3 separate regions of the Homo sapiens genome follow, and regions 1 and 2 are each reported to be linked to region 3. Evidence: microRNA targets listed by miRTarBase, many of them from high-throughput screens and not tested one by one. Region 3 holds a microRNA gene; each other region holds the end of a gene's coding sequence.

The links. The annotated mature microRNA hsa-miR-6760-3p reads ACACUGUCCCCUUCUCCCCAG and lies in region 3 at 3,019-3,039, opposite strand. An mRNA with a match to its seed (bases 2 to 7 or 8) in the 3' UTR can be bound and repressed. Matches are read on the target gene's strand: a 7mer-m8 pairs with bases 2 to 8, a 7mer-A1 pairs with bases 2 to 7 and ends in A, and an 8mer does both.
Region 1: miRTarBase lists ZNF24 as a target of hsa-miR-6760-3p. The part of its 3' UTR that is shown has no 7-base or 8-base seed match.
Region 2: the mRNA of RAB11FIP5 is a reported target of hsa-miR-6760-3p. Seed matches in the 3' UTR shown: 7mer-m8 at 1,583-1,589.

What each region holds. Positions count from the first base shown.
Region 1 is chr18:35,333,796-35,338,034 of GRCh38, reverse strand. ZNF24 (zinc finger protein 24) reads left to right here. Exons shown (of 4, transcript NM_006965.4): 4 at 265-4,239. The coding sequence ends at 803. Among named protein-coding and RNA genes, the nearest start is that of ZNF24, 8.5 kb to the left of the region's middle.
Region 2 is chr2:73,072,267-73,076,479 of GRCh38, reverse strand. It overlaps RAB11FIP5 (RAB11 family interacting protein 5), which reads left to right. Exons shown (of 6, transcript NM_001371272.1): 5 at 298-487; 6 at 756-3,098. The coding sequence ends at 959. Among named protein-coding and RNA genes, the nearest start is that of SFXN5, 2.7 kb to the right of the region's middle. RefSeq lists an enhancer at 4,170-4,213.
Region 3 is chr12:111,302,989-111,307,227 of GRCh38, reverse strand. It overlaps MIR6760 (microRNA 6760), which reads right to left and starts at 3,086; the gene lies at 3,019-3,086. CUX2 (cut like homeobox 2) reads right to left here. Exons shown (of 22, transcript NM_015267.4): 10 at 2,914-3,018; 11 at 116-307; 12 at 1-29. All of the region lies in intron 2 of LOC105369983 (a long non-coding RNA gene), which reads left to right.

The sequences.
Region 1 (4,239 bases), not on the chromosome of region 3:
TACCATCTTTCTGACCTTTGTTTTCTGACTACCATTTGTAAACCACTTGCCTATGTTTTATTCAGATATCCCTTATATCATGATGTTATACTGTTATTCAGAGTAATTTCATTTTTTCTTTTTTGAGAATAGGCCTTAACACCAGTGTCAGAGTGGTTTATAGATGTGTGCTAGCTATTTTAGTTCATTAAAAAAAAAATTTTTTTTAGGTTTCTTTTCCCTTAATAGATAATGAATGATATTTACATTTTCTGTTTATTTCAGATGATGATGGTAGGACTGAAAATGGAGCACTAGCTCCAAAGCAGGAGCTTCCTTCAGCATTAGAATCCCATGAAGTTCCTGGCACTCTCAATATGGGTGTTCCTCAAATTTTTAAATATGGAGAAACCTGTTTCCCCAAGGGCAGGTTTGAAAGAAAGAGAAATCCCTCTCGAAAGAAACAACATATATGTGATGAATGTGGAAAACACTTCAGTCAGGGCTCAGCCCTTATTCTTCATCAAAGAATTCACAGTGGGGAGAAACCTTATGGATGTGTTGAGTGTGGGAAAGCATTCAGCCGAAGTTCCATTCTTGTGCAACACCAGAGAGTCCACACTGGAGAAAAACCTTACAAATGTCTTGAATGTGGGAAAGCCTTTAGCCAGAATTCGGGGCTTATTAATCATCAGAGAATCCATACTGGGGAGAAACCTTATGAATGCGTTCAGTGTGGGAAATCGTATAGTCAAAGCTCAAATCTTTTTAGACATCAGAGAAGACACAATGCAGAAAAACTTCTGAATGTTGTGAAAGTTTAAGAAATTGAAAAAAAAAAAAGAATCAGCACTCAGGTCTTTTTCTTCAGAAATGAAGACAAAATTTAAAATATGAAATGATGCAGAATAGTTTTTTCCCTATTGACTGTCAGAAAATCCACTGGGAAATGTAAAAATCTTCACTCACCATTATGATATTTATCTTGAAAGAAATGGTGTCATACCTGCCTAGAAACTGAAATTTTAAACTTAATTCAGGTCTTAATGCCTAAATTTTCCATGTGATGTTTATAGTCTGTATTACTTCTCCAAATAATGAACTACCTGATTCATTGTCCCTTTCTTGAAAGTTTCTTTTTTAAGACAAATACATTATTTCTGCATTGATCATTGAAATGTTCTTTATATGGATACATTCCCTTATATATTAAAAGGCAACAGGAATTACAAAGTCTGAAAACCATTTTAAACCATCTTTTAAAAATTTACCCTTATTTCCTTTTACCTAATTTGAATATGCATTTGAGAAAATAAGAGGATAAAGGATGGCTAAGAGCCTCAAAATGAACCATAAGATCTCAGATAAGAAGTGATGGTGATAAAACATCAAAAAGTGAATGGAACACCTTGATTGGGGAAGATATGCAAATACTTTGATCTAAGAATTGAAATGTATCAAGAATTTATATTTTGCCTGCAGGAAAATTCAAAAGCTACTCATCCTCTCTATAATTTGGAGTCATCTTACTAATGAAAATAATGTTTTCCCATATATTATTAAAAAGCATACAGTCTAAATAATAAACAGTTGTAAAATAATGAAGGTAGAAATTATAACACTAGGGAAAAATTTGTAGCGGATGGCAGTGTTGAAGGCAAATGTAAACATAAGGGTAATGGTCTGTCATGGCTTTTAGAAAAAGATGATAGAGTTCATCATTATTTTGCCTTCATCTTTGTTAAGGACAGAAAATTCCCTGACAGGTGGGCAAGTATCAGGTTACCTATTTTTTATTCCTTTGGTACAAAAGGGTTGAACGTCAGGCTAAAAAAGCAGCCATGCATTTATTATTAAACATTTTCTACCGACAAGGCACTGTGCTAGGTACTGTAATCCTACCATAAGTAGGTAGGTATTTCTTCCACTGTAAATCATAGGGGTTTGCTGTTTTATGTGAGTTAGCCTCTTCCCCTTGTCTGAGCATTCCTCAGGGGAGGTCACCTGTGAGGTTCCCAGAACTGTAGTTTTTTTTACCAGGGTGTTGTATTTGGAGGGGGAGGAGGACTCGGCTCAAAAGAGCTAGCTGGCTCTCCAGTGTTCAGAGGTGAGTCCACGATACTCTTACCACAATTTGGAAGTTTGTGAATCTTTTTAAAGAACTAATCAATCTCTAATAGCATTGAGGTTGTACCTACATATTAAGTTGAATGGACTGTTCTATTTAAAAAATAAACAACTAGACAATTAACTAGTTTATTAACCTATCACAATTGAATTTTTTTTTAATTTTCAGTCTTAACACATTTTTTAAAATGTATTAAAGTAATACATTGTAGTAGTAGGATTATATACTCCTTGGCTGAGAATTCCAAGTACTGTGGTTCTACTGTTTAGTGGAAAACTCTGGAAGTTAAAATATAGAATATGAGAGGAGGCTTTTTTATAATGGGCATCATTGTGTGGAAAATGACCCATGTGAATACAAATATTTCCTAGTTCAGAGATTTTGGTTATATCTGGTGCTTGGATCAAGTTTAAAAATGGAAGGTGAGATTTTGCATGAGCCTATTAAAAAGCATAGTAATAAATGCAAGGCCAGCTGGTGGAAAAGTGAGGCAGAATGGAGCTTGTTTATAGGTTTTCTGATAACAATTATAAAAAATGTGCTTTATAGATTAAGATTTATTGAAGTATAAATATGTAGTAATGATATAATGTATTTTAAGTTATACAAGAAAATGTAGGGACTTTTGTTTGGGTCTTTTTCTCTTTGTGGCTGAGGGGAAACAAGTCAGTGTCCAATAAAGCTGTAAACTCCTCTGCTCTAAGATAAATGATGTGATTTATTTATTTATAACTGGCTTCTTTCCAAGTAGGTTTTCAGGTGGCATATTTGGAAGACGGCTGGAATGACAGAATTCTTGTATCAGAGTAGGTAAGAAGGGAGCAACCTCTCAATGGCTATTATGTCATGCTTTTTAAGATCGTATGCGGTTCCTATATACAAGGAAGCTTCCCTGTGGTAGATTTGTCATAAATGCCAAAGATATTTGGTAATGTGAGTGTAGAAAAAGTAGTATGAGGGTTGGCAAATACTGTTTTTGTCTTGGCAGCTCTAATATCTGCATTGTTCAGAAAGGATTCTGAGGCTAAGGCAAAGCTCTGTGGGAAAAAGGGACTGGACCAAAAAAAACTGGATGGTGGCACACAAGAAGAGGAAATGATGAGATGTGTACTTTCTATCTCTGGTTAGGCTTAGTCCCCACTAGACAAATTGATTTTAAATACTATGTAGTGATTTTTAAATTCCATCCACACATTCATTACCCACACAGATAATCATAGAAATTTGGGGGAGTGCCTAGCTTCTGATGAAGTGGTGATATGGCAGTGCCAAGCAGTGGCATCGCCAGAGTATCTGTTTGGTTAGCAAATGAGCAGTCATTTTAGGTCATGCAGATTGCTGATATCTGCCCAGTAGCCACTGAGCATTTGCTGGTTTTTTCTTCTGGCTTTCTTGGAGGTTAAGCTCTCTGTAGTCATACCCAGTTGGTACTTGATCTTTAGCAATATGTCTCATATTCATGTAAATTGAAGGGAGGGTTACATGTACTGAAATAATCTGCATGCTAGGCATTGGCTTAGACACCGTACCTATCTCACTTAGATTTGTGGACTAGGAAAGCAAGATTCAGAGATCATGTGACTTGCATGTGGCCTAGAGATAAAATTCAAATCTGGTTCTGTAGACTCCAGGGACATATTCACCATGCCATGGGTGGTGGCTATTAAACCTTGATAAATTTGTGTTTATGGTTAACAAATGTGAAAGCTATTAAACATTGCTGGTTTGAATTTTTTACAGTGCAGAAATGTAAAATGAAAAAGGATATTTCCTTTCACAGTGTTACCGAGAAGTCATGATAATTTCGTTTGTTCTTCCAGATTTAGGCATATACTTATTTAATCAATAATGTGTTAACAGCTGACACCTGTGGTTGCTGTGACAGGCACTATTTGAAGTGCTTTATCATGGATTAACTCTTAATCCTCAGCTACCGTATAAAGTAGGACATAACCCCATTTCACATGCACTACACTGAGACTTGCCTCCTCTCCCCCCACATTGAAGATGTTCTTTTTTCATAACTATATACTATTCCATTGCATGAATATTCTGTAATTTATTTAATCCCCTATGGATTGATAATTAGGTTCATTATAGATAGAAGTGTAATTAACATTCCTGTACATGTA
Region 2 (4,213 bases), not on the chromosome of region 3:
GCACAGGAGTCTGTAGCATGGCCTTTGCTGTCCCTGTGAAAGGGTCAGTTCACCCGGTGAATGAGGGAGTGAAATGGGGAGGGAGCAGGTGGTGGGGTGGGAATTGAGGCCAGCCCAGGGGGTTGCTGAGGAGTACTGGACACCGCTGCCCTGAAACCTTGACTCTGTAGGGGCAGCTACCACCCAGTGCTGGGCTTTCTGTCCAGCAGACCTGGAGGCTCCACAGGGAAGGCAGCCCCACCTTTGACCCGTGCCACCCTTCTCTCTGTGTAACCCATCTCTTGTATGTCTTTGCAGTCCCCACCCCGTGAAGCCCCTCAGTGCCGCCCCTGTGGAGGGCAGCCCCGACAGGAAGCAGTCCCGCTCCAGTCTGAGCATAGCCCTGAGCAGTGGGCTGGAGAAGCTCAAAACAGTCACATCTGGGAGCATTCAGCCTGTGACCCAGGCCCCCCAGGCTGGCCAGATGGTGGACACCAAAAGGCTGAAGGTAAGGCCCAGCAGGGTGTGGGGGCCATCTGACAGAATGTGTGGTGGAGTCTCAGGGCTTGGTCCTGGTGAGGGTGGGGCAGGGAGCAGGCCAGGTCCCCCATATCAGAGTCCTGAAGCCAGTTAGGCTCTGACTTTGGAGACAGGCAGCCTGGGGCCCTGTGGTGGTGAAACTTAGGTGTTGGTGGGCAGGCGGGCGGGCGGGCAAGCGGGCAGGCAGGCAGGCAGGCCTAGGGCTGCCCTGCTCACTGTCTTCGGTCCGGCCTCAGGACTCAGCTGTGCTGGACCAGTCGGCCAAGTACTACCACCTGACCCACGATGAGCTCATCAGCCTGCTCCTGCAGCGGGAGCGGGAGCTGAGCCAGCGGGACGAGCATGTGCAGGAGCTGGAGAGCTACATCGACCGGCTGCTGGTGCGGATCATGGAGACCTCACCCACGCTGCTGCAGATCCCCCCGGGCCCCCCCAAATAGCCTTCCTCACCCTACCCCCAGGAGGGTTGGCATGGACCTATTGCTGCCTGCCCTCTCTCCTCCTGAACTCTCTCATCTGCAGTGGGGCATCGTCTGTCTTGCCTTGTCACTCCTTGCTCCTCTCCCTCCTGCCTCAACTGGGGCTGCTGGAAGGGGGCCCTCTGGATTCCCTTTGGAGGCATCAGGTTCTGTGCACAACTTGTGTGTCTTTGGGAGCCCTGGGTCTTTCCCACCTGCCTGTTTTCATATCCCTCAGCTTTGGGGGCCCCAGGGAATTGGAACTCTTCCCCCAAGACAGAGCAGGGGTGAACTGTAGCTTGATGCAGTAATCTGGGACAAGACTGGTTGCTAGCACATACTTTATTATCCCCCAAGGATGGTCAGCCATTTCTTCCCACAGCCAAAGCCCCATCCCCTTCATTTCCCTCCAGTCCCTGGAGGGGCTTCTAGTATTACTGGGACAATGACCACGCTGCCTGTTTGTCTGTGAGTTACGGGCAACCAGCCTCTTCAGCCTCACACCCATTCCCCTGAGAGCAAGAAGCCTGTGTGGTCTGGGCCAGTCTCTGCCATGTCCTGAGTCTGCTTCAGTCTGGAGCTGTTTGTGGGGCGAGTGCCATGTGGACAGTGGTGGATGATGTGTGTGCTTCAGGCTGCTCCCTGACCCCTCTGACCTTTCCACGAGTGTCACATGGGAATGTGTGGGGCGCAGGGGCGGGTGCGGAGAGAGCACCTTTTTGCTTTTCGAGCTCTTGACCACCTCCAATGTGTAGGTCCCTCCAGGCTGGGGCTTGGGACTGCTTATGATTTGGGGATCAAGCCTCCATGTCTATTCTTGTTGCCTGTCCAGATGCCAAAACTCTGTGTTGCTGCAGGGTTTGAACTTTTGGAAACCAATTAAAATGTGCCTTTGGTGGGCGGGGTCAAGAGCCCCTGGATGTCGACCTCTCCCGCTGTGTGGCGTCCCCCTCCCACCTGTTGAATACATAGGGATGGCTCTCTCAGGGCCCTGGGAATGGGAATGGACAGCACTGCTGTGGGCTGTTCCCCTCCCCTAAAGTTAATCTCTTGGTCTGGCCAAGTTGCTGCTCCCTCAACCTTCCTGCTGTCTTCCCCTCCCTCAACCCCAATAGGAGGATCCCAGGATAAACACTGCTGGGCAGGCGGGCAGGCAGGCCTGGGGCTGCCCTGCTCACTCTCATTGTCTGGCCTCAGGACTTAGCCATACTAGACCAGTCAGCTTGCCTGGAAGAGGGAGGTCCCACTATGCCTTTGGGAGACACCTATACTTAGGAAAAAGCCTTTGTTGTCCTCCCATCCATCCATTAAGCTGCTATCTCAGCCTGTCCCTTCTGCCCCAGGGGCTTGCCTGGCTTGGCTGCAGTGCACTTTGAAATGAAGTATCTGTCCTTTGGCCCAGCCCCTGGTTTGCTTGTAGAAAACATGGTAGGCTTCCCCAAGGCATCTGCAGGGAACTTTGGCAGCTTGGGGCACCCTGAATTAGCAAAAATGGGGGGTGATGAGGTGCTGAAGAAGGATACTTAACAGCTTAGTGAGGAGGCAAGAGCTCCTCTGGGACCACCACTTCTTCAGGAGAGGGCCTGTGGGCTTGCTTTTGGAAGGCCTCAGGCAGACACGTGCCCTCTGGGTGATGTCTGTCTGCTGCCAGGATGGAGCAGAGGAGCGCCACACATGGAGGAAAGCCCCTGTAACGTTACCTACCTTAAACTCCACTCATCAAATCTGAGAAAAGTATCCACTGGTCCCCAGGGTTTCAGTCATGCTTTTGGGGGTCATTGGGTATTAGAGAAGTAAGTATCTTTTCTGAGAGAGGGGGAGTCACCCCCCCTACTGGGGATTCCTCTGGGCTTTATTCACTCCCAGCCCTGGCCCTGACCTTTGTGGGCCTCCCTAATGCCCAGGGCATGGATGGCTTCAGAGGAGTTTTTGAATCGAAGCCCAGGGTCCTTGTTGATGTTTCTTCTCCTAGCCACACTTGGAGGAAAGTTGCAGGTGGGTTGGGCAGGGAGCAGGCATGGTTCTGCTTTGCTGTTTGTCTTCCTAGTTAAGGCTCTTTATAAAGAGCTTGTTCTTCATGTTTTAAGCACTTTATGAAGAATAAAACATTCATGTACTGCAGGTGGCTCTGTTGTGTTCCTGTTTTGGAATGAACAGTTACAGGAGGCTGCTGTGGGAGAAAGCACCTTAAATCAAGGTGATGGGATTCTTGGATGACACTGTCCCTGCCCCTTATAAGGGGGCAGCAGCACAGTGTTGCCCAGCAGCCTGAACTTAGTCTTTTCTGACTCCCAGGGTACCCACATTTATTGCGCACCTAAGATGGGCCCATTTATTGGTAATACAGAGGGTAAGAAATGGATTCCTATTCTCAAGTTGCATGGTCTAGCAGGGGAAGATAAGATACAAATCCAAGATACAAATAGTTCTTCATGGCTAGATAGAATCTCTAAGATAAGATACAAATCCAAGATACAAATTGTTCTTCGTGGCTAGCTAGAATCTCCCCCTAGCTTTATGAAAAGTGTTTCTTGTGGTTCAACTACTAGAGGATGAAAAACTTTGACTGCTACAGCTCATGTAGTGTCCAGAAACACTGGCAGACATGAGCCAACCCTGCACTCCACCACGAGACTAATGAGACCCAAAGTGGAGTTCCCTAGAAGACCAAATATTTCTACTGTCATCTTGGGCAAAACAGGCAGCTCCCGAAGTCTGGCTCACTGACCAGGTAATTCAGCTGGGAATCTTCAGCTAATCCATTCTACAACTGTATGTGTTTATTATCCATACTGATCCTTACTCCACAATCTGTAATACTCCCCCTTACCTAACACCCTCCCCACCCACCCTAGTCCCAAGTTCTCCTCCTGCCCAGGAATTAGGCCCAGGAGGGATCTTCCTTGGTTGGCCAGACAAGGTGAAAGCTGCCAGGGCTCTTAATCCCCCACTGATGAACTCACAGCCAACACTTATTTGAGTCTCTACTGTGAGCCCTTTTATGTCTGGCTCTGAAAACTGAAGTGAATCAAAAAGTCATAGCCCCTGCCCTGTGAACTTTACAGTAAGAAAGACTGTCCAGAACAGTAAGTAGTTGTGAGTGCAAAAGAGAAGTGCTGGGTGCCACGGAGCCTCTGTGGGATTTTGTGCAAGCAGAGTGATGGACTGGGAAATGCAATGTTTAGGCTAAAGCCAGAAAGCCAGCATCAGGCGAAGATTTAGTCTTCCGGGTACAG
Region 3 (4,239 bases):
GACTGGGCCTGGAGCTTCTCTTCCAGCTTCTAGAAGAGCAAAGAAAGATGGTGAGGCTGGTCTGTGTGCTTCTGCATGGGGCCGCCTGCCCGCCTGCCTCCTCCCCAGGACCCACTTCTATGGCCTCGGACTTGGCCGTGAGCTGCCGCTCCAGGTCGGCGATCTGGTTGGCGGATGCCTCCTCCAGCTCCTGCAGTGAGCTCTGGAGGTGCTGCACGTCCTTCAGCAGCCGCAGGATCTCCCTGTCCTTGGAGGCCAGCGCGGCCTCCAGCCGAGGGCCCGAGCACAGAGTGAAGTTCACCTTATCCTGCAGGCAAAGGGGTCTTTGAGGGGCTGAGAGGTGAGGGATGGGGGTCCACAGGTCTGGCCTCCCCACCCCTGAATCCCAAGCAGAATGCAAATTTGTTGATCTGGATGATGGTATGGGGTGTGCTTGTGTTGAAAAATTCAAAGTGTTGTATACTTATGACTTGTACACTTTTCCTTATGTATTAAGTTACACTTTGATTAAAAGATTTATTAAAAAAGAATAGCCATGACAAAAGGAAGGAGTCAGCTGAGGTTGGGGATTGGGTGCTCGCACCAGAGGAAACAGCATAGGTAAAAGTTTGAGTTTCTTTCTCAGGTCTGGCTCCTACTCCAGGGGGATGTCCCCATTCTAGGCAATAAGGGACCCTCAGGATTAGACTTGACACCTTGGAGCCACGGACCACGTTATGGGCGGCTCTTTCCTCCGCCTAATTTGCTGATAGCCCCAAGACCCATGGCTTCTCCACATTTTAGGAAATGGACCCTCTGTCCTGGATGAAGATGGAGAGGTTGCTGTTTGAGGAACCTGAAGTCAGGCTGATGTCAGGCTTAGTTACAAATAAATCTAAGAAACATTAAAAAAAAAAAAAAACCAAACAAACAAAAAGCCCCAACCCAACCCCAGCTTTCTTCCATGGAGATAAATGCCAATTAAAACAGGAAGCGGATGCCATTAATACATTAAATTAATTAGCATCGAGTGCCACTGTTGTGCTCAGAAAAGCACACCCCCCAAACCAGCAAAGTTCCCTGGGGCTGATTAGCACAGGCATTTGCCGGGTTCCACGGGGGTTAATTAAGAACCATTGGCAAATTCCTCTACGAGGCATCCTCATGGGCTCTCACTCTCCATCTCTCTCCACACAGCCTCTCTCTCCTGTGTTCACTCTCTCTGTGTTATGCCGTCACCCAGGAACATGGACACACACAGAATCTCCTGGGACACAGACACAGGCTGACACACAAGGACACACCTATAGCCACAGCACACACTAACACATGCAGTTTCCCAAATATGCTGACACACACACACAAATACACACGCATCAAAGAGAGACACTCACAAGGACACATCATCACACACAACAGACATGCGCGTGCTCAAAGAAGCCACATGCTCTCATGAGCAAAAACACCCCAGACACACCAAAGACACATTAACAATTATAACAGTAGCATCAAGTACTTAGTGAGCATATACAATGACCCAAGCACCATTTTAGGCACTTTACACATAATCCATTTTTTTTTTCAGAGACAGGATCTTGCTGTATTGCCCAGGCTGGACTCAAACTCCTGGGCTCAAGTGATCCTCCTGCCTCAGCCTCCTAAGAGGCTGGGACTACAGGCATGTGCCACCATGCCTGACTCATGTAATCCTTTTAATAACCCTATAAAGTAGATGTTAATTGTACAGATGAGGAAACTGAGGCACAGTCAGGTTAAGAATACAGTCAGTTGCCCAAAGGTCACAAGTAGAGACACACATACACAGTAACACATTCATAGAGACTCATTCCAATATTCAAACAGAAAGAGAGACATAGACACCTGGGCCTGTATATGTGGGTGTCAGGTGAAGTGAAAATTATGCTCGCAAGTTCAGGTTCATGGGTGGAGAGGGAAGTCACCCTGGAGCAGACCTGTTATTATGTAAGGAATCATGAATCTCACCCCTTGGTATGTAGAGATCTGGAAATAAGGCAGACCAATTCACATAATGAACCCAAGGCTCTCTGGGAGAGCCAGGATGGAGACTGCTAATATAGGACAGAAGGGTAGGTTGGGGTGGCCTTGATGAAAGTCTCTTGTCAAGAAATGACACTAGGACCCCAAAGAGGCACAAACCAGGAGGAAAGAGAAAGATGAATTGATTAATCAGGCCTAACACAAGAACCTCAGGGTTGATCACCGAAGACTGGCTCTTCATAGCATGTGGCTGGGGTGGGAAATCCCCCTAGAATCACCTGGCATGCTTTGGAAACCAATGGCTGAGTATGAATGTTAAATTTTATCTTGGTATGTGGCCCCACTGCAGTCCTGGTGATGACTGCCTGTTGATATGTTGGCTGGCTCACACTCCTAAAAGTACCCAGTTTTGGGACTGAAAACCAGCAGGGGCATCACCATCCCAAGCATGCACAAAGCTGCTATGACCGGTGTTCAACAGCGACACCTGGTGGCAGCCACCAAAACTGCATGCTGCTGTATTGCCTCAAACTCCCTCTCCCCCATGTCTTTGCTGGTGCATCTGGAAATCAGAATGATCTTTGGTCTGAGGAAGTTCCTGGCATTCTTGGATAATTGGGGATAAGGGAGGCCTCCAAAGGAAGATACTGGAACTCCTGGTAATAAAGGGTATATGGAAACGTGGGCTTGAAAAGTAAAGAACTGTAGCTGTATTTTTATCCTCAGCTGGTGTAGCAGGTCATAGTGATTATGCTCACCGTATGCACAGAGACCCACACACATTCACACTCCCAGTTTCAAATGGATGCACACAATCAACCACAAAGTGTCACCCACATGCTGAAACCTGCAAACTCAGCCATTCCCGATCTTTCCCTCTGCCCTCCCTGCTCACTTCCCCAACCCCATCCTTACCCCACTGGGCCCCTGGGGAGAGCAGCAAGCCAGGCGGATGGAGCTGTTGACAGAGGCCAGCTGTTCCCGGAGACTTTCCACCTCCCGCTGGGCAGCCTCAGCTCGCTGGGGAGAAGGGGACAGTGTGGGCGAGAGGTGAGCCCACTCTGCACTTCCACCTTCTCCCTGCACTGTTTCAGGCAGGGGTTGGGGAGGCAGACCTCCGAGGGCCTCAGGTCCTGCCTTCCTAGTCCCGGACCCTGTCCTGGAGCTATGAAGACCAGTCACAGAGCCCTGTCTGGGCTGGGGACAAGAAATAGCAGCCTCTGGGGTTACTCCTGAGCTGAGAGGACAGGAAGAAATGCCCCTCTGAGGAGGTTCTGGGTTCTCGTGGGGTGCCTGGGACCCCCAGAGGAGTCAGAACATTCCTGCTCTATGAAGGCAGGATGAGAGAGGCTCTCTGGGTGGGACTGGCAGGTTTTCACACATTTCTAGATACTTCTGTCTGCCACATTAACTTCAGGCCTGGCTAGTCTGAAGGCAAGAGCTGTTCCAACTCTCATGCCACCTGGTATGGAATGAGTCCCAGACACGGCATCTGCAAAGGTGCTTTCCCAGGCCACAGGTTATTGCAGCCCCTGGGCAAGTCACTTCCTCTCCCTGGGTCTCAGTTTCTTTTCTTTTCTTTTTTTTTTTTTTGAGATGGAGTCTCACTCTTGTCACCCAGGCTGGAGTGCAGTGGCACAATCGTGGCTCACTGCAAGCTGCCCCTCCTGGGTTCACGAGATTTTCCTGCCTCAGCCTCCCAAGTAGCTGGGATTACAAGTGCACACCACCACACCCAGCTATTTTTTGTATTTTTAGTAGAGGTGGGGTTTCACCATGTTGGCCAGGCTGGTCTTGAACTCCTGACCTCAGGTGATCCACCCGCTTCAGCCTCCCAAAGTGCTGGGATTACAGGAGTGAGCCATCGTGCCCAGCTCAGTTTCTCTTTTTGAAATGGGGAGCAATGAAAACATCTAACACAAAGAGGTTTTGAGTGGTTAAAATCAGAATGCAGCAGTTCACTAAACTGGGTCTATGGTCGATTTTTTTTTTTTTTTTTTTTTTTTTTCGAGACAGGGTCTCGCTCTGTCACCCAGGCTGGAGTGCAGTGGTGCAATCAGGGCTCACAGCAACCTCCAACTCCCGGGATCAATTGATCCTCCCATCTCAGCCTCCTGAGTAACTGGGATTACAGGTGTGCACTACCATGACGGGTTAATTTTTGTAGTTTTAATAGAGACGGGTTTTGCCATGTTGGCTAGGCTGGTCTTGAACTCCTGGGTTCAAGTAACCCACTTGCCT